Linked DNA regions of Homo sapiens: region 2 is linked to region 1. The links come from fine-mapping of genetic effects on gene expression. A gene starts in region 1. The other region holds a variant in brackets. All regions are shown on one strand. Distances are between the middles of the regions. Region 1 holds the start of APC2 (APC regulator of Wnt signaling pathway 2). Region 2 overlaps MISP (mitotic spindle positioning).

Evidence for each region.
Region 2: its variant is fine-mapped to the expression of APC2 in cerebellar hemisphere (GTEx, PIP 0.95).

Annotation. Positions count from the first base shown.
Region 1 is chr19:1,441,958-1,453,804 of GRCh38, forward strand. APC2 (APC regulator of Wnt signaling pathway 2) reads left to right here and starts at 8,164. Exons shown (of 15, transcript NM_005883.3): 1 at 8,164-8,381; 2 at 11,027-11,185; 3 at 11,290-11,380; 4 at 11,474-11,654. The coding sequence starts at 11,045. RefSeq lists silencers at 3,274-3,663, 3,714-3,813, 4,274-4,323, 4,973-5,267, 8,011-8,210 and enhancers at 10,053-10,686, 10,687-11,318, 11,319-11,847.
Region 2 is chr19:762,277-778,876 of GRCh38, forward strand. It overlaps MISP (mitotic spindle positioning), which reads left to right. Exons shown (of 5, transcript NM_173481.4): 5 at 1,225-2,042. The coding sequence ends at 1,314. Among named protein-coding and RNA genes, the nearest start is that of LINC01836, 12 kb to the right of the region's middle. RefSeq lists an enhancer at 16,447-16,600. The variant G/A (reference allele first, on the strand shown) is at 5,336.

The sequences.
Region 1 (11,847 bases):
AACCATGATTTGCTCGTGTTCTTACCTCTCGATTTGGAATTAAGTTACATTACAGAGAAAGTGTGGGTCCGTGTTTTTCTCTCTGTTTGGGAAAAGGTGGGTTGGACAGAGGAAGGATGGCCCAGGGTTATAAGCTTGGCTCCAGTACAGCCGGGAGACCCCCAGGCAGCATGAGTCGGTGGGACTGGACCTGCCTGGCTGGTGTCCAGAGGGGCCCGTAGCCAGTGGGACGGTGCTGCACGTGGTCGTGCCTCAAGCCCTCCACTGCACCGGGCGCCCTGGCCAACCCTGCCAGGAAGTAAGGAGACCGGGGAGGCCACTGAGGGCCTGGACCTGGCTGGGTAGTCAGAAGTGGGGGCAAGTCTTGGCTGGCAGCCCCTGAGATGTGTAGAATGTTTGAAAATTCGCCTGTGGGTTGACCTGAACCCACCGGGCTTGAAACCAACGGTCCAAAGTTTGGAGTGTGGTCTTAAGGAAGGAGACCACTACTACTCCTGCTGCCTTCCTCCCACCACCTTGCCTAGTTCACAAGACAGGAGGAGAGAAAATGCAAAAAGTTGGAAAAAAAATGCAAAAGTAAGATAAACAGACAACCTTGGCACCACCACCCGGCCCTAGGAGTTAAAAAAAAAGTAATAATAACATCAACCACTGACCTAAACTACTTGTGTTATCTGTAAATTCCAGACACTACGAAAAAGCATTGTAAAACTTTCTGTTGTGTTAGCTGATGCATGCAGCCCCCACTCACGTTTTCCACACTTGCTTGATGTATCACGACCCTTTCACGTGGACCCCTTAAAGTTGTAAGCCTTTAAAAAGGCCAAGAATCTCTTTTTCGGGGAGCTTAAGACGCGAGTCTGCTGATGCTGCCGGCCGAATAAAAACCTCTTCTTTAATCCAGTGTCAGGAGTTTTGTCTGTGGCTCATCCTGCTACAGTCTGGCTGCTAGGTGGCCGCCGGAGGTCTCTGGGCAGCACTGGCCAGGTTCACTTCAGCGTGAACAGCAGAAGCTTGTACGGGACCCAGCTTCGAAGGCCCACCCCAGGTCCAGCTCAAGGAGAGGGAGGGAAGGCATGTGTAGGCAGGGTTCATTGTAGTCTCGGTTGTCAGCATTCAGAATTCTTTTTATTTTTTGAGACAGAGTCTCGCTCTGTCGCCCAGGTTGGAGTTGAGTGGCACGATCTCGGCTCACTGCAGCCTCCACCTCCCAGGTTAAAGCAATTCTCCTGCCTCAGCCTCCCGAGTAGCTGGGATTACAGAAGCACGCCACCACGCCTGGTTAATTTTTGTATTTTTAGTCGAGACAGGATTTCACCATGTTGGCCAGGCTGGTCTCCAATTCCCAACCTCAGGTGATCCGCCTTCCTCGGCCTCTGAAAGTGCTGTGCTCCAGCCTGGGCGACGGAGACTCCGCCTCAAAAAAAAAAAAAAAAAAAAAAGAAATTGCTGAGGTGTTAGGTGCTTTTCGCCTCAGATAAGCAAAGTGGGAAATTAGTGGATGTCCCACTGAAACAGCTTTATCTGCAACATGGTTTTCAACCCTGAGCCTTAGAAATCAAAAGTGCCGGAAACCATGGTGCACACTTGAAGTCTTTACCGAGGCCCCGTCTAAAAAAAACAAATGGAGCCGGGCGCGGTGGCTCACGCCTGTAATCCCAGCACTTTGGGAGGCCGAGGCGGGCGGATCACGAGGCCAGGAGATCAAGACCATCCTGGCTAACATGGTGAAACCCCATCTCTACTAAAAACACACACAAAAAATCAGCTGGGCGTGGTGGCGGGCGCCTGTAGTCCCAGCTACTGGAGAGGCTGAGGCGGGAGAATGGCGTGAACCCGGGAGGCGGAGCTTGCAGTGAGCCGAGATCGCGCCACTGCACTCCAGCCTGGGGGACAGAGCGAGACTCCGTCTCAAAAAAAGAAAAAAATAAATAAATGGAAATGACAGAGCTTTTGAGCTACCAGGTCTATCTGCAGAGCAAATGACACAGAGATGTGTGGGGCCGCGCCCATCATGAGGCAGCTAGCTGGGAACAAGCCCCAGGGGGCCCTCCCTGAGGAAAGCATAATAGGAATGGGTGCTGGGCCTCACTTCGCTTTTGCAGAGCTTTACTGGCACCCAGCTGTGCCCATTCATACCTGTATTACTTCTGCCAGGCAGACGCTGAAAATTTACTGTCTGGACCTTTACGGGAAGTTTCCTGTCCATAAAAGCCCTCCCTGCACACGCCCCTGCTGGCTAGCACGTGGCTGCTAATGGGTACTTCCCTTGGTTTTCTGCAGTTGGAATCCAGCATGTGTGATCAGGGAAAATATGTATTAGTATTTAAAGCAAAAAGATACCCCCAGTTCAGAGAGACACATGTCTTGGTGGCCAGGTGGTGCCCTAGGTCCACAAGAATTTGGGGGGTGTCCAGGAGGTGGGGTGGGAGCCTCTAACTAGCACTAGGGTGCCACTGTCGAGGGCCACTCCCAACTCAAGGCCCAGGCTCTGTCTTTAGGCCTCTCTGGCCATATCCGCACTTCTTTTTTTTTTTTTTTTTTTTTTTTCTGAGACGGAGTCTAGCTCTGCCGCCCAGGCTGGAGTGCACTGGCAGAATCTCAGCTCATTGCAACCTCCGCCTCCTGGGTTCAAGCGATTCTGCTCAGCCTCCCGACTAGCTGAGACTACAGGCATGCGCCAAGACGCCGGTTAATTTTTTGTATTTTTAGTATAGACGGGGTTTTGCCATGTTGGCCAGGCTGGTCTCGAACTCCTGACCTCAAGTGATCCACCCGCTTCGGCCTCCCAAAATGCTGGGATTACAGGCGGGAGCCACCGTGCCCGGCCCCACGCTTCTGTTTCTACCCTCTGGTCCCACACCCCGCTCCAGAATCTGCATGGACTCTCCCAGACCTGCCCGGCCCCATCTGTGCCGTCTCAGACAGACAGCTCCGTCCTCATCAGGTTCAGGTCTGGCCCCGGCGCTTGCGGGTCAGCTGCCTTCAGGCCCTGTCCTGGTTCCCGGCGCTTCTCACATCCCCGCGGCCTCCCCCCTGGACGGCAGTTTACACTGAACTCGGCGCCCTCCCCTGACTTCTGAAGGAGGAGTCCTGGGTGGCCCCGAAGCCTCCCCGGCAGCCGCACGGCTCCGTCCCCGCTCCAGGGTTCAGCTGAGGCACCTGCTGGAGGCGGCCTGTCCCCGCCGCCCTGCTAAAGCGGCGCCCCTTTCTCCGGCCGCTCGTTCTTTGGTTTCCAGGGACTTTGCACAATTCATAACACCCCTCTTAGCCCCCATCCTGCCCGGGCCGCATCTTCCGCCCGATCATCCGGCCCTCGACCCGCGCAGCCGCCTCCGCCCTCCTCTCCCGGCACCGCCCACGGCCTGTTCTCCCCGCAGCCGCCAGCGGGCGCCCGCGAGCCTGGAGCCGGGCGCGGCCCTGCTCTGTCCACAGCCCGCGGTGGCTCCCACCTCCCGCTGGGCCTGCGCGACCTGCCCCCCGGGGCCTCCCAGCCCTCACTGCCCTCGCGGGCTGCACTCTCCCCCAACACTCCCCAGGGCTGTTCGGCCTCCCCAGCAGCTCCCCATGCCCTGCCCGCCGCGCTGGCGTCTCTCCCAGCCCGCTGCAGTCCCCTCGTTCACGTCAGCTTCCCAAGGGCCTGGATTTTGTTTTGTTCAGTGCAGGGGGACCCAGCACACAGTAGGTGCTTTATAAATGCTTGTTGCATGAATGTCCGCGTTCGGTGTCGCCCCCTTACGGCGGCCCCCCGCGCGCCCAGCTCGGCGCCCAGCAAGCCTTGTGCGCGCAGGTGATGTTTGCTGAATGACTAATGAACCTCAGCGCGCCAAGCCGGGCTGATTCGGGGGTGGTTCCGAGCTTCCGCAGGGTGACCGTCCGCGGGCAGCGGACCACAGCCGCATGGCGACGCCGCCTCTGGCCCCCCGCGACCCCCATTCCCCGTGGGACCTCTCGTGCCCCCACCCCCACCCGGCCTCCTCCCCGCCGCCTCGGGCCCCCCCAGCCTCCTCCGCATTCGAACTCCCCAGCGTGGTCGGACCCGGACCCTGGCGCCGCTCGGCCCACGCGAGTCCCCTCCCCTCTCTCCCATCCTTGGATCTCCCACCGCCCCTCCGCAGCCTCGGTCCCGCGAGACTCCCCAGCCCCCGCGAGCACCCCCAGACCCCACGGTACGCCCTCGCCCCTTTCGGGAGGAGCCCCGCCCCGGGCCCGCGGACTGACCCCTCCCGCCCCTCTCCGCGCAGGCGCAGGGCGGCCCCGTTCGCGTCCCGCACCCCCACCCTGGCCGCCGAGGGGCGGGGCGCGGCGGGTCCGGGGCGGCCGCGGCTCCATGGGGCTCCTGGGGCTCCTGAGCCTGCTGCACTCGGCCTTCTTCGGGGACCAGGTAGGGCGCGTGGGTCGAGCCGTTGGGGAGGGCTCCGGGCCGCGCAGGAACGGGGCGGGGTCCACACCGCGGGAACAGCGGGCGCGGCGGCGGGGGGCGCATGGGGCGAGCGCGCGGAGGCTGCAGAGTCGGGGGTCTAGTGCCGTCGCCGTAGAGACCGTTGCCGGGAAACCGCCTCGGAAGGCTGGCGGGGATGGAAGCCCCTCTCGTGCGCCGCTGCGACCCCCAGCCCCGGGTCTGCGCAAGCGCAGGGCTCGCCCAGCCCAGCCCTCGGCCTCTGCAGGAGACCCTCGGACCCCTCCTCACTGCGCCGACGCGGAGGCTGCGCCAGCTGGGGCGGCGGGGGCGGCTGCGGGGGCATCCTGCGGAGGCTCGGCCCTGCGCAGGGTGGGGGCCTGGGCCACGCCCTGCGCTTCTTTGGGCCTCAGTTTCCCCTTCTGGGCGCGAGCGTATGGCCTGCTTTGACGTTCGCCGCCGCTGCTGTTCGTATCCGTCCGCTCCCGACCCCAGCGCTTCTCCAGCCTCCGGAATCGTCTGAATTTCGCGGCTGTGACATCCCTCATTGGAGGGGAAACTGAGGCTGGGGGGTGCAGCGGGGAGCCCAAGGTCACGCTTCGAGGCCGGAGCCTCGTTGCGGAGCTAAGGCGCCCGCAAGAGAACGCGGGGCGGGGGCCGGGGAGCTGTCCGCGGTGCTGACGGAGGCGCACGTCTGCCGACTCGCCGCCGGGGAAACTGAGGCCCATAGCGGCGGTCAGGCTTCAGGGCGCGGCCTGGACCGGCCTACCCCACCCTCCCCCACCTCCGGTGGCCTCCTCACCGGTCAGGGCTCTGCCCGGCCACCCAGCCGGCGGCGGGCCGTCTCTATCCTCCCGCGATGACCTGGTGCCTTCTCTGTCCCCACCCAGCTCCCGATGGGGGCCGCCCCTGTTTCTGCCTCTAGCCCCTGGCACAGAGGAGGCATCAAGGGGGCGGGGACAGCTCGAGGTCAGACTCAGAAGGCTCAAAGACACTCCAAGAGTGAGCCGTGTGCCAGGCTGCGGACTTGCGGGGAGGTGTCACAGGACAGGGGTGGGGGAGTGAGCATTTCATGGAACTTCCCCTTTAGCCCAGCAGCAGTAGGGGGCGTGGAGGACCCCAGGGAGGAGCCTAGGTCGGGGTCTTGGGCTAGGCCCTGCGTTCTGCAGTGGGAGAAGGGGGAGACCTCTCTCAGTCTCCTGAAGTCCTAGGGGGCTGTGGGGGGTTCTTGAGGCTCTGAAATGTCTGGTGATGTCTGAGTGTGGCTGTGGTTCAAGGATTTACAGGGTCGAGGATTTTAGTGTGTGGGGGGGGATTGTTCAGGGACATAATGTTTTGTAGATTTGGGGCCAAGGGCATCTTGTCTTGGGGTCTCAGCCCCCATGTACCCTCAGCCCTCCAGGCCCTGGCCACCCCCAGAGGGATAAGAAGGGAGGTTCAGTGTCACTCCGGAGGCCTGGCTGGCACAGGTGAACTCAGGCAACACGTTCCCTGGCCCAGGCCTCAGTTTCCCCATGTATACAAGGACAGGACTGACCTTGGATCCCCCAAACCCCTGCCTGATGGGGGCCTGGGGAGCTGAGACATCTGAAACTACACAGGGAGGTGGGACTTAGTTCCTCTTTGGGGGAGGCAGGGATCATCCAACCCACCCTTCAGTAAACAAGACTGGAAACCGAGGCCAGAGAGAGACATGCCCAGGGGGACACAGGGACAACAAGGCTGAGCTGAAGCCAGGGCCCTGGGCTCTGCATCCCCAACCCCATTTCAGCCTCGCCCAGCTCTGCCCCGGCTTGACCTGTCAAACCCCACCACGCGCCCTACCCCATGGCTCCACCAGACACCCCCTGTGTCCCAAGCATGCATTGATCTTCCCTCAGCCTGGAACGCCTCTCCTCCTGATCACTGCTGTTCACTTCTCAGGGCAGCCTTCCAGCCTCCAGAAAAAAATCCCCTTCGAGGCGGGCGGATCATGAGGTCAGGAGTTTGAGACCAGCCCGACCAACACGGTGAAACCCCCTCTCTATTAAAAATACAAAAATTAGCTGGCAAGGTGGTACATGCCTGTAATCCCAGTTACTGAGGAGTCTGAGGCAGGAGAATCACTTGAACCCAGGAGGCGGAGGTTGCGGTGAGCCGAGATGGCGCCACTGCACTGCAGCCTGGGGGACAGAGCAAGACCCCATCTAAAAAAAAAAAAAAAAAAAGGCCGGGCGTGGTGGTTCACGCCTGTAATCCCAGCACTTTGGGAGGCCGAGGCGGGTGGATCACGAGGTCAGGAGATCGAGACCATCCTGGCTAACGTGAAATCCCGTCTCTACTAAAAAATACAAAAAATTAGCCTGGGCGTGGTGGCGGGCGCCTGTAGTCCCAGCTACTCGGGAGGCTGAGGCAGGAGAATGGCGTGAACCTGGGAGGCGGAGCTTGCAGTGAGCCGAGAACGTGCCACTGCACTCCAGCCTGGGCTACAGAGCAAGACTCCGTCTCAAAAAAAAAAAAAAGAAAAAAAAGAAAAAGAAAAAAGAAAAGATCCCCTGTGTCTGCCCACTGCATTGCCTCCCCAGACCCAACCAGTGGGGACAGCTGCGTCCAGCTCTGGGGGCTCCCAGACAGCCAGGCCGAAGGGCTCTCAGCCCCTGGCAGTGCTGGCCCGGGACAAGGCCCTCGGGTCTTCAGCTCAAGGCCCAACAGGAAACAGCACGGGTCCTCCCTTGCCTTTGTCTACGGGGCCTTGAATACTCGGACCTTCCCACCCTCTCCTATCATTCCCTGCACCAGCCCTTGCAGAATCTTCCGCCTCCTCTCCATTTTACAGAGGAGGAAACCGAGGGTTGAGCGGCGAATGATTTGCCCTGCCTGCCCAGCACGGAAAAAAATCACTCTTCTGGCCCCAGTCGCCTCCCTTTCTGTGCTGTGAGTCTGTGTCCAGAGCAGGAAGGGCTGCTCCGAGCTGCAGGGACGGGCTCTGTGTGTTAAACCTTCAAATGGCTTCCAGGGACTCATGGAGCATCCAGGACACCTGGAGATGGCGACTCCTGGGACCCCTGGCCCTTCCCTCCTCTGGCCTTCGGTCCGTGAGGGTGAATTAAGTGTGCCACCCACCAGGGGCAGAGACACATGGAGACAGAGATTGAGAGACAGAGAACAGAGGGGGAGACAGAAAGAGAGAGGGACATGAAGAGCAACGGAGTTACAGGAGGATCTGACGCTCCGTTGGGGAGACAGGGAGAAATGTGGGGAGATGCAGCGTCCCAGGTGCTCCCCAGTGGCCCTGCCCCTCCTCCCCTCTCCCCTCCCCACCAGGCAGGACCCTCAGGGAGCTCCAGCCTGGACCCGAACCCTGTCCCACCCTGACGCACCTGCACCAGGCCAGGCTGGACCTGTGGGGTGGGTGCAGGCCTGGCCCCAGCCCGGCCACTGCCCTGGAAACCCCTCCCCCGCCAAGATGCTGATGTAACATCCAGGATTTGATGTTTTACTCTCCAATTCTGCAAATCCAGACGCAGGAGGTTTTAAGAGGCCGTTGCACCCTGCAATAAAGTGCGGGACACAGGAATCTTGGTCCTCGGGGCACCCCCTTCCCTCGGGGGGGTTTCGCCCCCCGCACTCACGGCCCCTGAGCCCGCGCGGAGGCCCGACGCCCCGCGGCCGACGCCGGTCCCCGCCCCGGGCCGCCATTGGCTGTTGCCATGGCACCAGCCCGTCTTCCCGCGCCCTCATTGGCTGTCTCACCCGCATCCCTCATCCCGCATCCTCCCCCGCTCGCGGTGGTCTCGCCCAGCGCTAGGAGCGGCAGCGCCGCCTGCCCAGGCCCGGACCGGGCTTTGTCCGCCCCGGAGCCCCTGCCCGCGCCGCGGAGACCCCGGAGCCCGCGCGCTCCGAGGCCACCCCGGGCCGGGATTTCCGGTGGGGCCCGCGGAGCCGCGCAGAGGGAGGAGGCCCCAGACCCAGGCGCCCCGCCAGCCCAGCTGCACGTAAGCGGGTGTGTGTCCTCGGGGAGGAGGGCAGGGGCGCGACCTCCGCCTCGCGTCGAGGTTTCCATCCCTGGCTCTCAGCATTGCCCGTCAGCACAGACTCTGGACCCTCCATTTCCCCAGAGTGGGAGCTGGAGGGGAAACTGAGTCCCGGTGAGCTGGGCGTCAGCGTTTCTGCAGCCGGTCCTGCGCACACACCCACTCACGGGCTTCACCATCCGGACCTCCCTGAGGTGATCGGAGGAAGGGATGGGCAGGCCAGTGGTGTGTCTTCGGGGGTGTTGCTGCACCTCTCTGGGTGTCAGTTTCCCTCTCTGGAAAGAGGGGGTTTGGATTAAAGGAAGGAGAAAGGCCCCTTTGGGCCTGGCTTCCCATACCTGTGCCTCCCTCCCCTGAAATGCAGCCCGCTCAATAAGACCAGCCCCCAGTCATGGTGCCTTCAGGGAGTGATCGCTCAGGAAGGCCCCCAGGAGGCTACACGATGCAACCTGGGGGTGAAAGTAGGCAGAAGAGCTTCGTGGAAGAAGCTGCACTGTGTGGGATGGCAGGACTTAGAAAAGGTGCTCTAGGCAGGGCAACTGCACGTGCAAAGGCCTGAGAGAAGAGAGCCTCCAGCCTCTAAGTGAGTCGCGGTGTACATGGAGGAGTCGGAGCGTATCCTGAGGGCACTGGGGAGCCATGGAAGGTGTTTGAGCATGGGAGAAATGGGATCTCACTTGTGACGTTTAAAGCTCCCTCTGGCTGTGCATGGGGGACTGTGGGAGGCCAGGAAGAGGCTGATCAGAATGTCCTCACAGAGGGGTGTCAGGAGCTGGGGGAGGCATGATCCCGCTGGGCAGAGCTTGGAGGGACTAGCTTAGTCTGATGAGGATGCAGAAATGACCACCGAATGTGGGGAGAGGGAAGGTGTCTGAGGCTTGGCTTCGGTCAGCTGAGAAGAACCACGTGGGGGAGGCCTGGGTTTGGGGAGCAGGAGGCAGACATGTGTTGCTTTGCACGTCATCTGGTCCTTCCACCTGGCTGGGCATGGGATGGTGACCTCAGCTGGAACATGGGGCTCGAGCCAGACCCCAGGGTCTCCCTGCGTGTAGCCCCCAACCCCAAGCCTGATCCCCACTGGAGACCTGAACAGCCTTGGACATCATCGGATCAGGGTGGGAGGTGCCAGCCTCTGCCACCTGACTTCCAGTCCCTGTGCCCCTCCCACCCTGCCCTTGGGCACTCCTGCCCTGCAGGTTCCTCAGAGGGGCAACCCAAAGCCAGAGAGGGGCGGGTCTTGTCGGGCCTCCAGCCTGGACTTCCCAGCCCCTCTGGGGCAGCATCTGGGTGCCAGACCTCGGTTCCTAGGGCCTCGTTTCTCCCTCTGGGAACAGCCAAATGGTGGTCCCTGAGACTCAGGACAGACCAAGAAGGAGCCGGATGACATGGCAAGCCACACACTGCGTCCCCTGAGCAGGACGGGACAGCCCGACTCCATCCTCCCACCTGCGACTGAGCCCCCACCCCTACTCCTGTCCCAGCCGTGCCCCTGGTGACATTTGGGTGGGAGGGGAGGGGATGAGGGGGCACCTGGGGGTCAGAGAACAAATGACGGGTGAATACATGTGTGTGGCCAGGTGGAGGAGGGAGGGGAGGAGCAGGTGGGCTGGACAGGGCCGGTGTGAGGAAGGGGCTCAGGCTGGCAGGGGGAGGTGGCAGAGGGATGGGCTGCCATTGGTGCGTCTGAGACAAAGGCGGAGGGAGGAGGCGAGCGCTGATGGGAAAGGAACAAAGAGGGAAGGGGGGCGTGAAGGGGGGCTCCGGCGGGAGGGCCGAGCCGAGGGAGGAGGCGCCGGCCAGCTGGACAGAGGGAGGAGGCCAGGCCAGAGCCAGAAGACGGCCAGAGGCACAAAGAAGCCAGCGCGCTGGCAGAGTCAAGGGATGGGGCAGGGGCTGCCGGGGCCAGCAGGGACCAGCTGAAGGCTGCGCAGGGGGTGCGGGCCACACAGGTAGCCACCCTGAGCTCAGCCACCGATGGAGGGTCGTGGGGCTGCTGCGGTGATGGCGGTGGGCTTGGGTCCATCTGTCCTGCCGTTTCTGCACAGCTTAGGTGTCACCCACTGGCCTTCGTGGTGTTTTCATTGTCCATCGGCAGGGACAGCTGGTGGTCTGTCCGCCCCGCGTGTCTGGCTGTCAGCCTCTGGGCAGGCTTGCTTTTATGGGGGAGGGTCCTGTCTGTCTGTCTGTCGCCCTCTCTGGCTGTGAGCCTGGGGGTGCTGGGCTGGCCAGTCGGCTTGCTGGGTTAGGCTGTCCCAGCTGTCTGTGTGTTTGTCCGGCTGTCAGGATGTGTCCTGGGGGCTGGGAAGGAGAGGCCGACCCATCGTCTGTCGGTCGACTGGTCAGTTGGACGTTCAGCTGTCTGTACGTCTGTCTGCTGGCCCCTCTGTCTCCCCTTGGGGCCACCTCTCACTCCACCTGCCCCTCTGCGCCCCGGATTGCCTGGCCACCACCACGTGGGCCTGTACTTGTCCACACCAGTGACTCCTGCCTGAGACCCCCCCCAACCCAGGATCAGGCAGGACGGCTGGGGCTTAGGTCAGGGGCCGTCTGTCCGGAAGGCATCACCGCGCCCTCCCCAGACCATCAGCTGAACCCTCTGACCCTGTGATCCCAGACGCTGCAGGAGCTGAAGATGGCGAGCTCCGTGGCGCCCTACGAGCAGCTGGTGAGGCAGGTGGAGGCCTTGAAGGCTGAGAACAGCCACCTGAGGCAGGAGCTAAGGGACAACTCCAGCCACCTGTCCAAGCTGGAGACAGAGACGTCGGGCATGAAGGTGGGGGCCTACATGGAGGAGGTGGGCTAGGGTCCCGGGGTGGTGCCCCCCGGCAGCCCAGTGCAGTGGCTGATGGCTTCCCGCCCTCTTTCCCGCCCCTGCAGGAGGTCCTGAAGCACCTACAGGGAAAACTGGAGCAGGAGGCCCGAGTGCTGGTGTCCTCGGGGCAGACGGAGGTGCTGGAGCAGCTGAAGGGTGAGCGGTGGGGCCACCCGCAGAGGGAGTGGGGGAGGCTGGGGGGAAAGGCAGGCAGGGCCGCTGACCTCCGCCCTGTCCCCGCCCATCCAGCCCTACAGATGGACATCACCAGCCTGTACAACCTCAAGTTCCAGCCGCCCACCCTGGGCCCGGAGCCTGCCGCCCGGACCCCCGAGGGCAGCCCAGTACACGGCTCCGGGCCCTCCAAGGACAGCTTTGGGGAGCTGAGCCGGGCCACCATCCGGCTGCTGGAGGAACTGGACCGGGAACGGTGAGTGGGCGTGGGAACCCAGCCTCGGGCAGCTGGAGCATGACTCGGTCCCCAGCGGGCTCTGCCCTCTAATTCGCCCACCCGCATATGTCTCTGCCCACACCTCACACGCCCCACCCACTTGCATATGGCACTGCCCACCGAACAACCCCGCCCACCTCGGAGCTTCGTCCCCACGTGGCCTCCCTCCCCC
Region 2 (16,600 bases), 680 kb before region 1:
GAGTCTCGCTCTGTTGCCCAGGCTGGAGTGGAGTGGCTTGACCTCGGCTCACTGCAACTTCCGCCTTTCAGGTTCAAGCGATTCTCCTGCCTCAGCCTCCCAAGTTGCTGGGATTACAGGCACCCACCACCATGCCCAGCTAATTTTTGTATTTTTAGCAGAGATGGGGTTTCACCATGTTGGCCAGGATGGTCTCGAACTCCTGACCTCAGGTAATCCTCCCGCCTCCACCTCCCAAAGTGCTGGGATTACAGGTGTGAGCCACCGCACCCAGCCAAAGGCACTTTCTTTGAGGAAGGTATGCATCTGAGACTATTCAAGCCAAGCCCCCTCAGTCGGTTTATGGCACACGTGTGTGGCCCTCCTTTTTATTTTTATTTTTTTTTATTTTTACTTTTTTGAGACAGGCTCTCACTCTGTCACCCAGGCTGGAGTGCTATGATGTGGTCCCAGCTCACTGCAACCTTGACCTCCTGGGCTCAAGCAATCCTCCCACCTCAGCCTCCCAAGTAGGAACATAGGAATGTGCCACTGCACCCAGATAGTTTATTTTTATTTATTTATTTATTTATTTTTGTACAGGCAGAGTCTCACTAGGTTGCCCAGGCTGGTCTCGAATTCCTGCATTCAAGGGATCCTCCCACCTCAGCACACCAAATTTCTGGGATTATAGGCATGAGCCACTATCGCCTGACCCCTCTTTGAGCTGAATCCGAAATGCCAAATACATTGGACAGGCACGGTGGCTCACGCCTGTAATCTCAGCACTTTGGGAGGCCGAGGCGGGAGGATCATGAGGTCAGGAGATCGAGACCATGGTGAAACCCCATCTCTACTAAAAATACAAAAAATTAGCCAGGCGCCGTAGCGGGCCTCTGTAGTCCCAGCTACTCAGGAGGCTGAGGCAGGAGAATGGTGTGAACCTGGGAGGCAGAGCTTGCAGTGAGCCAAGATCGCGCCACTGCAGTCCAGCCTGGGCAACAAAGTGAGACTCCATCTCAAAAACAAACAAAAAAGCCAAATACAGACATTTTTCCTGCCCTGGAGCTCAGCATGAGTTAGCATATTCTTTGATCATATTACTAGGAGTAGAGGGTCTGAAACAGAGGAGGGGATCCTACTTTACCCCCGTTCTAGGCCTCTCTAATGAATTGGCAGTTGGAGGAGACATCTTGGGGGTGTGGTAGGACCTGGATCGGGGGAATTCATGCCTCCTTTTTGCAGGTCCTGGAAGCCATACGGGTGACCCGTCACAAGAACGCCATGGCAGAGCGCTGGGAATCCCGCATCTACGCCAGTGAGGAGGATGACTGAGCCTCGGGATGGGGCGCCCACCCCCTGCCCTGCCCTGACCCTCGTGGGAACTGCCAAGACCATCGCCAAGCCCCCACCCTAGGAAATGGGTCCTAGGTCCAGGATCCAAGAACCACAGCTCATCTGCCAACAATCCCACCATGGGCACATTTGGGACTGTTGGGTTTTTCGTTTCCGTTTCTATCTTCCTTTAGAAATGTTTCTGCCTTTGGGGTCTAAAGCTTTTGGGGATGAAATGGGACCCCTGCTGATTCTTTCTGCTTCTAAGACTTTGCCAAATGCCCTGGGTCTAAGAAAGAAAGAGACCCGCTCCTCCACTTTCAGGTGTAATTTGCTTCCGCTAGTCTGAGGGCAGAGGGACCGGTCAAAGAGGGTGGCACAGATCGCAGCACCTTGAGGGGCTGCGGGTCTGAGGGAGGAGACACTCAGCTCCTCCCTCTGAGAAGTCCCAAGCTGAGAGGGGAGACCTGCCCCTTTCCAACCCTGGGAAACCATCCAGTCTGAGGGAGGAGGCCAAACTCCCAGTGCTGGGGGTCCCTGTGCAGCCCTCAAACCCTTCACCTTGGTGCACCCAGCCACACCTGGTGGACACAAAGCTCTCACATCGATAGGATCCCATGAGGATGGTCCCCTTCACCTGGGAGAAAAGTGACCCAGTTTAGGAGCTGGAGGGGGGTCTTTGTCCCCCACCCCCAAACTGCCCTGAAATAAACCTGGAGTGAGCTGCCTGCCTTGGTCCCTGCCTGGTCCGGACAAAGTCCCCTGGGCCTCCACTCTCTGTTTCATTTTCTTGGCGACATTAGGTTCCACCCCGCTAGGCCGTGAGCCTGTGGGGCTGTCAGGTTCCCATGGGGGGGTTGCCAGCATCTGCATGCAGTAGGTGCTTAGCTGATGCTTGTTGAGTGACTGACAATTGATCATGGAGAGGCACCTTCAGCAACACCAGGCCCGGGGCCCAACCTCACCAGCCCGGCTCCTCCAGCCCCGTCTCACCACGTCCATCGCAGTACCCAGGGTGCTTATTAAGCATTTGCTGAATCCCTCACCACTCTGGTCTCAGAGGAGGCCGGAGGGTCATTAATTCGGCTCCGCATGTATACCAGGCTCACATCCAGGGAAGCCAGATCCTACTGGTCAGAGGCGTGGGCGCTGGACCCAAGTCCTGGCTCTGCTGCCTGCTGTGTGGCCTTGGGTGGGGGGGGGTCCTCTCACTGCCCCATGCCTCAGTTTCCCTCTGACACACAGGGATAACGATAGGACCAGGCTCCCGGGCAGTAGGAGTTAATTTACGTAAAGCTCTCGGCACATGGGGACCATTGACGTTGGATTCAGTGCCTGATGGCAGGGGCGTGTCCTCAGACACCCCCCAAAGCAGGCCTCGGCCCCCAGGCTCCCCCAACCCTGCTGGGAGCAGCGGGTGTTAATTACACCTAGGCCAGTGTCTCCTCCTTGGCTGCTCAGTGTCCGCTGCGCTGCCTCAGGGAAAACCGCGCAGCCACGCCGGGCCCAGGCAGGCAGATGTGGAACCGAAATAGCTGGGCAGTGGGGGCTGTGGGGACCCTGGGGAGGCGGGGGAAGGGGGCTGAGGGGCTACATCTGGGCAGAGCAGAGACTGAGGGAGGAGGGAGAGCCCCTGTCTTCAGGGAGACCCCAGTCTGATGGAGGAGGCATCTGCCTTCACAGAGATCCCAGGCTGATGGAGGAGGCCCCTGCCCCCAGGGAGACCCCAGTCTGACGGAGGAGGCATCTACCCACAGAGGGGCCACAGTCTGACGGAGGAGGCCTCTGCCCTCAGGGAGACCCTATCTGATGGAGGAGGCATCTGCCCTCGGGGGACCCCAGTCTGATGGAGGAGGCAGGTTATGTGACCATAGAGGGAGGCTCAGTGGCCATAGTTGGTGACTTCTTTCATGTCGGGGCAATTCTATTCCAACCCCAAGAACCAAACGTGGGGCCTGCGGGAAGGGAGGGCCTCACACACAGTCCTGGGTGAGTCCCATCAGTTTCTCCACTGTCTGCCACCCCATCTTCCCCCGATGCCCCATGTTCTGTCCCTCTGTCCCTGTGCTCTGAGGATGTGTGAGCCTCCACTGGCTACTATAACAAATCACCACCCACCTAATGACTTAAAACAGCAGACATGGTTGGGCGCAGTGGCTCACGCCTGTAATCCCAACACTTTGGGAGGCCGAGGCGGGCAGATCACCTGAGGTCAGGAGTTCGAGACCAGCTTGACCAACATGGTGAAAGTCCGTCTCTACTAAAAATACAAAAAATTAGCTGGGCCTGGTGGCAAATGCCAGTAATCCCAGCTACTTGGGAGGCTGAGGCAGGAGAATCACTTGAACTGGGGAGGTGGAGATTGCAGTGAGCCAAGATCGTGCTATTGCACTCCAGCCTGGGTGACAGAGTGAGACTCTGTCTCAAAAAAAAAAGGCAATCTCTCCCTGTCTCTCTCAGGCTCACCTTCCTGCCTCCTCTCGTGAGGGCCCTATGAGGACACTGGGCCTCCATGTCACCCAGGATGTTCTCCTGTCTCACGGTCCATTACTCAGTCCCATCTGCAGGTGCTTCTGCCACGAGAGGTGACACGGCCACAGGTCCCGGGGATTAGGAAAGGGATGTCTTTGGGGCCATTGTTCTGCCCACCAGAGGATCTCGACATCCCCCTTCTCCGTGACTCTTCAGTCACCTCTGCTCAGGGCCGGCCAGGACTGTTGCACAGGCTGTGCCCTGCACAAGCCCCCTGCCAAGACCAAAGGGCAAGGCTCTGTGTGCGGCCAGGGTCCCCGTCTTCAGTGTCCCTGGCCCTGGCTGTGGCCTGTTGCCAGACACCGCGTCACCAAGGGGTGCATTATTCCCACATCATCCCAGTTGGACGGTCACCTCACCCTGCCCATCGTCCTGCCAGCAAGATGGTCCCACAGCGGCCTCAGTTCTCAGAGGCTCGGCAGGGTCTCCCCTGACCCCGTAATGCCCCTCACTGCCCCTGGGCGCTGGGTTCAAGAAGAACCGCCTGCTTCGTTGCAGGAAGTGATGTCCACCCCCAACTCTGGATCGGAAGCCACGATCTATCCTCCAGACCCAACACCAGGTCCCCAGCCCTTTATCTCTCCTGTCTGTCTGTCCATTTCTGGTGTTCAGGCCTCTCTCTCCACGTCTATCTCCCTGTTTCTGTCCCTCCTGACCTCTCTCTTTTTCCATGATTTTTGCTTTCCTCCCTCCCCGTCTCATCCTAAATTTGTTTTTTTGTATTTTGTTTTTTTTTTGAGACGAAGTCTCGCTCTGTCGCCCAGGCTGGAGTGCAGTGACGCCATCTCAGCTCACTGCAAGCTCCGCCTCCCGGGTTCAAGGGATTCTCCCACCTCAGCCTCCCGAGTAGCTGGGATTACAGGTGCCCGCCACCACGCCCGGCTAATTTTTGTATTTTTAGTAGAGACGGGGTTTCTCCATGTTGGGCAGGCTGGTCTCAAACCCCTGACCTCAGGTGATCCGCCCGCCTCGGCCTCCCAAATTACTGGGATTATGGGCGTGAGCCACCACGCCCGGCCCTCATCCTAAATTCTTAAAACCTGCTCTCCTCTCAGCCATGATTTTCTTTGTCCTGTGCCATAAAGAATTCTCAGAAGCAGGATGCAGCTTCTGCTGCTCAAGGGTGAGCCCAGCCAGTGGGATCTGGTGTCGCTGCCCGCAGACCCCTCAGTCAAGAGCGGGGTGGGGGGCAGCAGGAGCTACAGTAACAGCCCGGATGGTCCTGCTCCTGAAGGCACCCCACCCTGCTGTCCAGAGGAGAGACCGAGGCTCAGACATTTGAGCCCCACATAACCCAGCCTGCCACACACCGCAGACTCCAACAGTGTAGCCCCTGTACCCCAGAAGTCACTTCAGCAAATCACTCAGGGCTCCACCTCACATCTGTCCCCAAGTCCTTGGGGACTTGCTCACTCAGCAGAAGACCAAGAGAAGCCAGATGCAGTGGCTCACACCTGTAATCCCAACACTTTGGGAGGCTGAAGCGGGC[G/A]GATCACCTGAGGTCAGGAGTTTGAGACCAGCCTGGCCAACATGGTGAAACCCCGTCTCTACTAAAAATACAAAAAATAGTCAGGTGTGGTGGTGGGCGCCTGTAATCCCAGCTACCCGGGAGGCCGAGGCAGGAGAATCCTTTGAACCCAGGAGGTGGAGGTTGCACTGAGCCAAGATTGTGCCACTGCACTCCGGCCTGGGCGACAGAACAAGGCTCCGTCCTAAAGAATTAATTAATTAATTTAAAAATAAAAAGAAAATGTGCACTTTCATCTTGTATTATTCTGTCCTTTTGTTTGTTTGAGATAAAGTTTCGCTCCATTTGCCCAGGCTGGAGTGCGTGATCTCGGCTCACCGAAACCTCTGCCTCCTGAATTCCAGTGATTCTCCTGCCTCAGCCTCTCGAGTAGCTGGGATTACAGGCCCACGCCCCCACCATACCCAGCTAATTTTGTACTTTTAGTAGAGACAGGGTTTCTCCATATTGGCCAGGCTGGTCTCGAACTCCTGACTCCAGGTGATCCACTTGCCTCAGCCTCCCAAAGTGCTGGGATTACAGGCGTGAGCCACCTCGCCCGGCCTATTCTGTCCTGTTTTTTTAAGATTTAGTTTGCCGGGCACAGTCACTCACACCTGTAATCCCACCATTTTGGGAGGCCGAGGCGGGCGGATCACAAGGTCAGGAGATCGAGACCAGCCTGGCCAATGTGGTGAAACCCTGTCTCTACTAAAAATACAAAAATTAGCCGGGCGCAGTGGTGCGCACCTGTAATCCCAATTACTCGGGAGGCTGAGGCAGGAGAATCGCTTGAACCCGAGAGGCGGAGGTTGCAGTGAGCCAAGATCGCGCCACGGCACTCCAGCCTGGGCGACAGAGCAAGACTGTGCTCAAAAAAAAAGATTTAGTTTAATTCCTGTAATGAGTCAGCCCCTTGGAAAATCAGACAGAATTCTGCCTGCTGAGCAGACACATTCCAGAAGTTACTCTGTGAGAGGTTTAGACGAATTCCTAGTGAAATTTCCAGGGGCGGGAGAGCGTGTCTGGAAGGTCTGCGGACATCACAGCAATCACAGAGGCCTTTGGGGCGGGCAAAACTGTCCGCTGGCGCTCGCTGCTAGCAGGAGGGAGTTCATATTCTTTCCTGGTTTCCTCCTGGCTCAGTGTATCATGATATGCCAGGGAAAGGAGGAGAATTCTCTTTTTTGTTTGTTTGGTTTTTTGAGACAGAGTCTCACGCTGTTGCCCAGGCTGGAGTGCAGCGGCGCAATCTCAGCTCACCACAACCTCTGCCTCCTGGGTTCAAGCGATTCTCCTGCCTCAACCCCCGGAGTAACTGGGATTACAGGCACCCACCACCACGCCTGGCTAATTTTTGTATTTTTAGTAGAGACGGGGTTTCTCCATGTTGGGCAGGATGGTCTGGAACTCCAGACCTCAGATGATCCACCCGCCTCAGCCTCCCAAAGTGCTGGGGTTACAGGCGTGAGACACTGCACCTGGCCTCAACTCCATTTTAATTAACCCTGCAGGGGCCAGGCATGGTAGCTCATGCCTGTAATCCTGGCATTTTGGGAAGCTGAGGCAGGAGGTGGATCACCTGAGGTCAGGAGTTTGAGACCAGCGTGACCAACATGGTGAAACCCTGTCTCTAGGAAATACAAAAAATTAGCTGGGCGTGGTGGCAGGTGTCTGTAATCCCAGCTACTCGGGAGGCTGAGGCAGGAGAATCACTTGAACCCAGGAGGCAAAGATCGTGGTAAGCCGAGATCGCACCATTGCACTCCAGGCTGGGCAACAAGAGCGAGACTCCATCTCAAAAAATAAAAATAAATAAATAAAAAATAAATAAAAATAAAAAAAATTAGCCAGGCGTGGTAGCGCGTGCCTAGTCCCAGCTACTCAGGAGGCTGAGACACGAGAATCACTTAAACCCGGGAGATGGAGGTTGCAGTGAGCTGAGATCGCGCCACTACACTCCGGCCTGGGCAACAGAGCAAGACTTCGTCTCAAAAATAAATAAATAAATAAATAAATAAAATAAAGAGATTTAGGAGAGGACACAAGCAAACATAACTCAGACTGACTTTGGCAAAACTAGGCTTTATGGGTTCCCGTAACTGAAACATCAATGTAGGGCCAGCTTCAGGCTCAGCTGGTTCCAGGTGCCACACAGCATCCTCAGGTTCCTTCGGTGTTGGGAGCTCAGGCTCCAAGCCCAGGACAGATTCCCAGCTCTGCCACATGCCCCTGAGGGACCCTGGGCAAGGCCTACCCCTCTCCCAGCCTCAGTGTCCTTATCTGTAAGTGAAGTCGCCACATTGACATCCCTGCCCTGGGGGACGTCATGAGGGTCACCGGGCACCTGGTGAAAATCAGTGAGGAATAAGAATGAATGTTGAGGCCAGGTGCGGTGGCTCACGCCTGTAATCCCAGCACTCTGGGAGGCCGAGGCGGGCGGATCACGAGGTCAGGAGATCAAGACCATCCTGGCTAACATGGTGAAACTCCGTCTCTACTAAAAATACAAACAATTAGCCGGGCGTGGTGGTGGGCGCCTGTAATCCCAGCTACTCGGGAGGCTGACGCAGGAGAGTGGGGTGAACCCAGGAGGTGGAGCTTGCAGTGAGCCGAGATCGCGCCACTGCACTCCAGCCTGGGCGACAGAGCGAGACTCCGTCTCAAAAAAAAAAAAAAAAAAAAAAAAGAATGAATGTTGGTTCTGACCAAGTAAATTAACGAATTGTCACCAGACAATGACTTCCATGTGACTTTCTGGTGTGAGCCGGAGAGGAGCCGATGCACGCTGCCACCAGAGGGCGGCAAACACCAAGGATGCAGCCGCGGCCCTCGCCCCGCCAGGGAGAAAACGCACCTGCCGCCACTCTCACCTTCTCATTCCCGTAACCGGATGGTGTTTGCTTAGTGCTCCTTGAAAGCCTGGACAGGGCCGGGCGCGGTGGCTCACGCCTGTAATCCCAGCACTTCGGGAGGCCAAGACGGGTGGATCACTTGAGGTCAGGAGTTCAAGACCAGCCTGGCCAACGTGGCAAAACCCCGTCTCTACTTAAAAAAAAAAAAAAAAATAGCCGGGTGTGATGGCGTTCACCTGTAATCCCAGCTACTCAGGAAGCTGAGGCAGGAGAATTGCTTGAACCTGGGAGGTGGAGGTTGCAGTGAGCTGAGATTGAGCCATTGCACTCCAGCCTGGGTGACAGAGGAAGACTCCATCTAAAAAAAAAAATTATTTGTAGAGATGACAGAGTGAGACTCCATCTAAAAAAAAATTATTTGTAGAGATGGGGTTCTCACCATGTTTCCCAAGCTGGTCTTGAACTCCTCAAGTGATCCTCCTGCCTCATCCCCACAAAGTGCTGGGATTACTGGTGTGAGCCATCGAGCCCAGCCCTGACCAACTATTTAGAGGTTGAAAACAGAGCCCGCAGGGCCGGGCGCGGTGGCTCACACCTGTAATCCCAGCACTTTGGGAGGCCGAGGCCCTCGGATCACGAGGTCAGGAGATTGAGACCATCCTGGCTAACAAGGTGAAACCCTGTCTCTACTAAAAATACAAAAAAATTAGCCGGGTGTGGTGGGGGGCACCTGTAGTCCCAGCTACTCAGGAGGCTGAGGCAGGAGAATCACTTGAACCTGGGAGGAGGCGGAGCTTGCAGTGAGCCGAGATCGAGCCACTGCACTCCAGCCTGGGCGACAGAGTGAGACTCCGTCTCAAAAATAAAAATAAAAATAAATAAATAAAATTAGCCGGAAGTGGCCGAGTGCGGTGGCTCTTCCACAGCAGCCAGAGGGCGCCTGTGAGGCTGACTGGGGGTGTCCCTGCTCTGCCCACAGCCCTCCATGGCTCCCATTTCCCTCTGGGTAGAAGCCCAAGTCCTCCGTGCAGCCCACAAGGCTCTGCCCAGTCCCCTCTCTCCTCTCCCTCCTCTGTCTACTCTCCCTCCTCCCTGTCTCCCCCTCCTCCTCTGCCCAGTCCCCTCTCTCCTCTCCCTCCTCCCTCTCTCCTCTCCCTCCTCCCTCCCTATCTCCCCCTCCTCCTCTACCCAGTCCCCTCTCTCCTCTCCCTCCTCCCTATCTCCCCCTCCTCCTCTACCCAGTCCCCTCTCTCCTCTCCCTCCTCCCTTTCTCCCCCTCCTCCTCTACCCAGTCCCCTCTCTCCTCTCCCTCCTCCCTGTCTCCCCCTCCTCCTCTGCCCAGTCCCCTCTCCTCTCCTTCCTCCCTGTCTCCCCCTCCCTCCTCCCTGTCTCCCCCTCCTCCTCTGCCCAGTCCCCTCTCTCCTCTCCCTCCTCCCTGTCTCTCCCTCCTCCTCTGCCCAGTCCCCTCTCCTCTCCTTCCTCCCTGTCTCCCCCTCCCTCCTCCCTGTCTCCCCCTCCTCCTCTGCCCAGTCCCCTCTCTCCTCTCCCTCTTCCCTGTCTCCCCCTCTGCCCAGTCCCCTCTCTCCTCTCCCTCCTCCCTGTCTCCCCCTCCTCTGCCCAGTCCCCTCTCTACTCTCCCTCCTCCCTGTCTCCCCCCTTCCTCTGCTCCAGCCACACGGGCCTCCTCCCTGTTCCTCCAACTTGCCAGGCGGGGTCCTGCCCCAGGGCCTTTGCCTCCCCAGGTGAGGTCCGGCCCCAGGGCCTTTGCACGGCCATGTCCTCTGCCTGGTTTCCCTTCCCTAGGTACCCACTGGGTTCATTTCTTCACTTCTTTCAAGGCTTTGGTGAACGCTCCCCTCATCACACAGCTGTTGCTCAGTAAATATGGCAGAATAAATAGCTGGGCAGGGCTCAGTGGCTCATGCCTGTGATCCTAGCACTTCTGGAGGCTGAGGCAGGAGGCTCACTTGAGCTCAGGAGTTGGAGACTAGCCTGGCCAACGTAGAGAGACTCCATCTCTACTTAGGGTGACCAGGGGAGAGAACAAAATCATGGGCTCATTTTTTTTTTTTTTTTGAAATGGAGTCTTGCTCTGTCGCACAGGCTAGAGTGCAGTGGTGAGATCTCGGCTCACTGCAACCTCCACCTCCTGGGTTCAAGCAATTCTCCTGCTTCAGCCTCCTGAGTAGCTGGGATTACAGGCACATGCCACCACACCCGGCTAATTTTGTATTTTTAGTAGAGACAGAGTTTCGCCATGTTGGCCAGGGTGGTCTCGAACTCCTGACTGCAGGTGATCTGCCCGCCTCACCCTCCCAAAGTGCTGGGATTACAGGTGTGAGTCACTGCACCCAGCAAAAAATGTTTATTATTCCCATTTCACAGACCAGCAAACTGAGGCCCAGAGGGAGCCGCCTGAGGAAACTGGATTGCGCAGCTGATGGAGTCTCAACCAGAGAAGGGGCCCGTGGGGCCTAGATTCAGACTTCCGGCTGTGCAGGCAAGCAGGAGGGCCCCCCAGTCAGGGTCCCCAGGACACCAACCCCAAGCCAAATGAGGCCACCAGAGGCTGTGCCCAGCCCCAGTCCCGCACGGGGCAGGTGTGGAGCAAATGCTGGCGGGATAGAGGGATGGAGAAGGGGGCTGCCTGGGAGTGAGGGGCTGGGTGCCCCACCCACCTGGCCTCAGCCTCCTGCCCTATCCGAGAACAGAGCTCTGGTTTCCTGCCCGGCAGCCCGTGAGGAGCAGCGAGGCATGGCCAGCTGGGGGCCGGACAGTCCTGAAGAGCTTGAGGACTGGCTCCTGGCTCCTAAAGCATAGCGCCGGCTCTGGGGATCTGCCAGGGAGAGACCAGCTCCAGGGCCCCTGGATGCAGGTTAGAGCTCAGGCTGTCCCCTGATGGCCTCGGTGCTATGGGTGAGTTTCTCCACCTCTCTGTGCTCAGCCTCTCACCGGAGAGGGGGTGGGTGATCCTGGCCTGAGTAGGTGACCAAGGCATCCTCCTCTGTGGCTGGTATTTCCCAACACCCTCAATAAATTCACAGGTGGCTCAGGCCTGTAATCCCAGCACTTTGGGAGGCCAAGGCAGGCAGATCACCTGAGGTGAGCAGTTTGAGACCAGCCTGGCCAACATGGTGAAACCTTGTCTCTACTAAAAATACAAAAATTAGGGCCGGGTGCCATGGCACATGCCTGTAGTCCCAGCTACTCGGGAGGCTGAGGCAGGAGAATCGCTTGAACCCGGGAGGCGGAGGTTGCAGTGAGCCAAGATTGTACCACTTCACTCCAGCCTCAGCAATAAGAGCAAAACTCCATCTCAAAACAAAATAAAAAATAAGGGCGCAGTGGCTCATGCCTGTAATCCCAACACTTTGGGAGGCCAAGGCAGGCGGATCACAAGGTCAGGAGATTGAGACCATCCTGACCAACATGGTGAAACCTCGTCTCTACTAAAATACAAAAAATTAGCTGGGCATGGTGACGGGCGCCTGTAATCCCAGCTACTCAGGAGGCTGAGGCAGGGGAATCGCTTGAACCTGGGAGGCAGAGGTTGCAGTGAGCCGAGATCCTGCCACTGCACTCCAGCCTGGGTGACAGAGCGAGACTCCATCTCAAAAAAAAAAAAAAAAACAAAAACAAATTGGTTTGTTTATTTTCCTGTTGATTTGTGGGAGTTCTTTATATATTCTGGACCTGAGTCCTTGATTACATTATGCACTGCTAGCTAGTACCTTCTCCCAGTCTGGCACTTTCCTTTTGAGTCTTCTTCTTTTTTTTTTTTTTTTTTTTTTTTTCTGAGGCGCCTGCCACCACACCCGGCTAATTTTTGTATTTTTAGTAGATACGGGGTTTCACCATGTTGGCCAGGCTGGTCTTGAACTCCTGACCTCATGATCCACCCGCCTCGGCCTCCCAAAGTGCTGGGATTACAGGCATGAGCCACAGTGCCTGGCCCCTTTTGAGTCTCTTAATGGTGTCTTTGGACAAACTCATTTGTTCAAAATAAAATGCAATTTTTTTTTTTTTAGATGGAGTCTCACTCTATCACCCAGGTTAGAATGCAGTGGGACAATCTCTCCCAGGCTCAAGCGTCTCTTCTGCCTCGGCCTCCTGAGTAGCTGGGATTACAGGTGGGTGCCACCACGCCCAGCTAATTTTGTGTATGTTTAGTAGAGACCAGGTTTCACCATGTTGGCCAGGCTGGTCTTGAACTCCTAACTTCGAGATCCGCCTGCCTTGGCATCCCAAAGTTCTGGGATTACAGGCATGAGCCACTGTGCCTGGCCATGTTAGGATATTTCTTTTTTTCTTTTCTTTTCTTTTCTTTTTTTTTTTTTTTGAGAGTCTCGCTCTGTCACCCAGGCTGGAGTGCAGCGGAGCCATCTCGGCTCACTACAAGCTCCGCCTCCCAGGTTCATGCCATCTCCTGCCTCAGCCTCCCAAGTAGCTGGAATTACAGGTGCCCACCACCACGCCCAGCTAATTTTTTGTATTTTTAGTAGAGACGGGGTTTCACCGTGTTACCCAGGATGGTCTTGATCTCCTGACCTCATGATCCGCCCGCCTTGGTCCCCTAAAGTGCTGGGATTACAGGCGTGAGCCACCGCGCCCGGCCCATGTTAGGATATTTCTGAGCAAATCTGAGGGTTTGGCCTGGAACCCTCAATTTGAGGTTGCAAACCCTGTTTCCTGCTAAGCCAGACAGATGGTGCTGGAGATGGGGAGGCCATGGTTTATGTTTTGTCCACTCTGGGTGCTGCCTGGACAGGTGACTCATGCATGTGGCGGAGCAGTCCAGAGTGAGGACTGTACCCCTACAGACACTCCCCCAGACCATGCTGGTGGCCTGAGCTGGGGGCTGCCCAAGTCCCCTCCCCGGGATCCACTTCTGGGGCCTCCCAAGCCTTCCCTGGGGTCAGTGAGTGCTGGAAGGGCAGCCAGCAGTGTGTGTCCACGGGGGGGGGCGGGTCACCACTTATCTGGGCATTAAATATTTGGGGGGGTCTCAAAATAATGGAAAACAGGGGGCCAGAAGTGGTGGCTCATGCCTGTAATCCCAACACTTTGGGAGGCCGCAGTGGGAAGATCGCCTGAGGTAAGGAGTTCAAGATCAGCCTGGGAAACATAGCAAAACCCTGTAATGAAAAACCCAAAAATTAGCCCGGCGTGGTGGCAGGTGCCTGTGATCCCAGCTACTCGGGAGGCCGAGGCGGGAGGACTGTTTGAGCCCAGGAGGTTGAGGCTGCAGTGAGCTATGATTGCACCACTGCTCTCCAGCCTGGACAACAGAACGACCCACTTTCTCAAATAAATAAATAAATAAATACGCTGAGGCCAGGCGCGGTGGCTCACGCCTGTCATCCCAGCACTTTGGGAGGCCGAGGTGGGCGGATCACGAGGTCAGGAGATTGAGACCATCCTGGCTAACATGGTGAAACCCCCGTCTCTACTAAAAATACAAAAATTAGCCAGGCGTGGTTGCGGGCACCTGTAGTCCCAGCTACTCGGGAGGCTGAGGCTGGAGAATCTCTTGAACCCGGGAGGCTAAGGTTGCAGTGAGCCCGAGATCACACCACTGCACTCCAGCCTGGGTGACAGAGTGAGACTCTGCCTCAAAATAAATAAATAAATAAATATTAAAATAAATAGGGCCGGGCACGGTGGCTCACACCTGTAATCCCGGCACTTTGGGAGGCTGAGGCAGGTGGATCACGAGGTCAGGAGATCGAGACCATCCTGGCTAACATGGTGAAACCCCGTCTCTACTAAAAATACAAAAAATTAGCCAGGCGTGGTGGCGGGCGCCTGTAGTCCCAGCTACTCGGGAGGCTGAGGCAGGAGAATGGTGTGAACCCGGGAGGCGGAGCTTGCAGTGAGCCGAGATCGCGCCACTGCCCTGCAGCCTGGGGGACACAGCGAGACTCCGTCTCAAAATAAATAAATAAATAAATAAATAAATAAAAATAAAATAAAATAAAATAAATTAATTAATTAAAATAGAGATGAGATCTGCCTCTGCCGCCCAGGCTGGAGTGCAGTGGCGTGATCATAGCTCACCGCAGCTTCCAACTCCCGGGCTCCAGCAATCACAGGACAAACCTCCCGCCCGGCCCTGCAGCCAGGTGCTCACACCAGCCCTATTTATAACAGGAATCCATGGAAATTTCTGGCCCCACCAAGCTGCTGTCATGAATAAGTCATCGTCCGGATCAATGATTCCACCCAGGGAGCATCTGCAAGTTTCCACCTCGTTCTCCCTGGGCCCCGGACAGCCTGGCTGGGACGTCAGAGCTACCAGTCAGGCTGCGGAAACAGCCTGGGGGTTCCTCTGTGACCAAACCATTCCACGCCGTGGTCTCTACCCAGAGAAAGGAAAACACAGGTCCATACGCGTGTTCGAGGCGGCATGATTCATAACGAACAAAAGGAGAAGACAGGCCGGGCGCAGTGCTTCATGCCTGTGATCCCAGCACTTTGGGAGGCCGAGGCGGGTGGATCACGAGGTCAGGAGATCGAGACCAGCCTGGCCAACATGGTCAAACCCCATCTCTACTAAAAATACAAAAGTTAGCCGGGCATGGTGGCAGGTGCCTGTAATCCCAGCTACTCGGGAGGCTGAAGCAGGAGAATTGCTCTAGCCAGAAGGGTGGAGGTTGCAGTGAGCCAAGATTGTGCTGCTGCACTCAGCCTGGGAGTCAGAGCGAGCAAGACTCCGTCTTTAAAAAAAAAAAAAAAAAGAAAAATTCAGCCGGGCGCGGTGGCTCACACCTGTAATCCCAGCACTTTGGGAGGCTGAGGCGGGTGGATCACAAGGTCAGGAGTTCGAGACCATCCTGGCTAACACGGTGAAACCCCGTCTCTACTAAAAATACAAAAACTTAGCCAGTCGTGGTGGCGGGTGCCTGTAGTCCCAGCTACTCGGGAGGCTGAGGCAGGAGAATGGCGTGAACCCAGGAGGCAGAGTTTGCAGTGAGCTGAGATTGCACCACTGCACTCCAGCCTGGGCAACAGAGCGAGACTCTGTCTCAAAAAAGTAAAAAAAAAATAAAATAGATGTATATAAAATATATAAATAAATATATATAAATATATATATAAATATATTTTTTCTTTTTTTTTTGGATGGAGTTTTGCTCTTGTAGCCCAGGCTGGGTGCAATGGCGTGATCTCGGCTCACTGCAACCTCTGTCTCTCGGGTTCAAGCAATTCTCCTGCCTCAGCCTCCCAAGTAGCTGGGACTACAGGCGCCCGCCACCACACCCAGCTAATTTTTATATTTTTAGTAGAGACGGGGTTTCACCGTGTTAGCCAGGATGGTCTCGATCTTCTGACCTTGTGATCCACCCTCCTCGACCTCCCAAAGTGCTGGGATTACAGGCGTGAGCCACCGCGCCCGGCCTATTTTTTAAAAGATTATGGATTTAGGGCACCTCCTCCCTTCTCCTTTTAGCCCCAGATAACATTCCATTCTCGATGTTTATCTGCTCGCCTGCCGAAGGACGTTTTGGTGGCTTCCAGGGCTGGGCTGTTATGAATAGCAGAGCTGCAGGCCGGGGGCGGTGGCTCACGCCTGTAATCCCAGCAGTTCAGGAGGCCAAGGTGGGAGGGTTGCTTGAGGCCAGGCAATCGAGACCAGCTTGGGCAACACAGCAAGACCCCAATCTCTAAAAAACATACAAAAATTAGCCAGGCATGATGGTGCACACCTGTGGTCCCAATGGTTCCAGCCACTCAGGAGGCTGAGGTGGGAGAATCACTTGAGCCCAGGAGGTCGAGGCTGCAGTGGGCTATGACTGCACCATTGCACCTCAGCCTGGACAGGAGGACAAGACCTTGTCTCAAAAAAAAATTTTTTTTTTGAGAGGGAGTCTCACTCTGTCACCCAGGGTAGAGTGCAATGGTGAGATCTCGGCTCACTGCAACCTCCACCTCCCGGGTTCAAGCGATCCTCCTGCTTCAGCCTCCAGGGTATCTGGGATTACAGGCGCCTGCCACCACGCCCAGCTAATTTTTGTATTTTTAGTAGAGATAGGGTTTTGCCATGTTGGCCAGGCTGGTCTCAAACTCCTGACCTCAAGTGATCTGCCTGCCTCAGCCTCTCAAAGTGCCGGGATTACAGGCGTGAGCCACCATGCCCAGCCAAAAAAAAATTTTTTTTTTAAATAATAAAATAGAGGCTGGGAGTGGTGGCTCACGCCTGTAATCCCAGCACTTTGGGATCACCTGAGGTCAAGAGTTCGAGACCATCCTGGCCAACATGGCAAAACCCTGTCTCTGCTAAAAACACAAAAATTAGCTGGGCGTGGTGGCTTGTGCCTGTAATCTCAGCTACTTGGGAGGCTGAGGCAGGAGAAGCGCTTGAACCCAGGAGCCGGAGGTTGCAGTGAGTCGA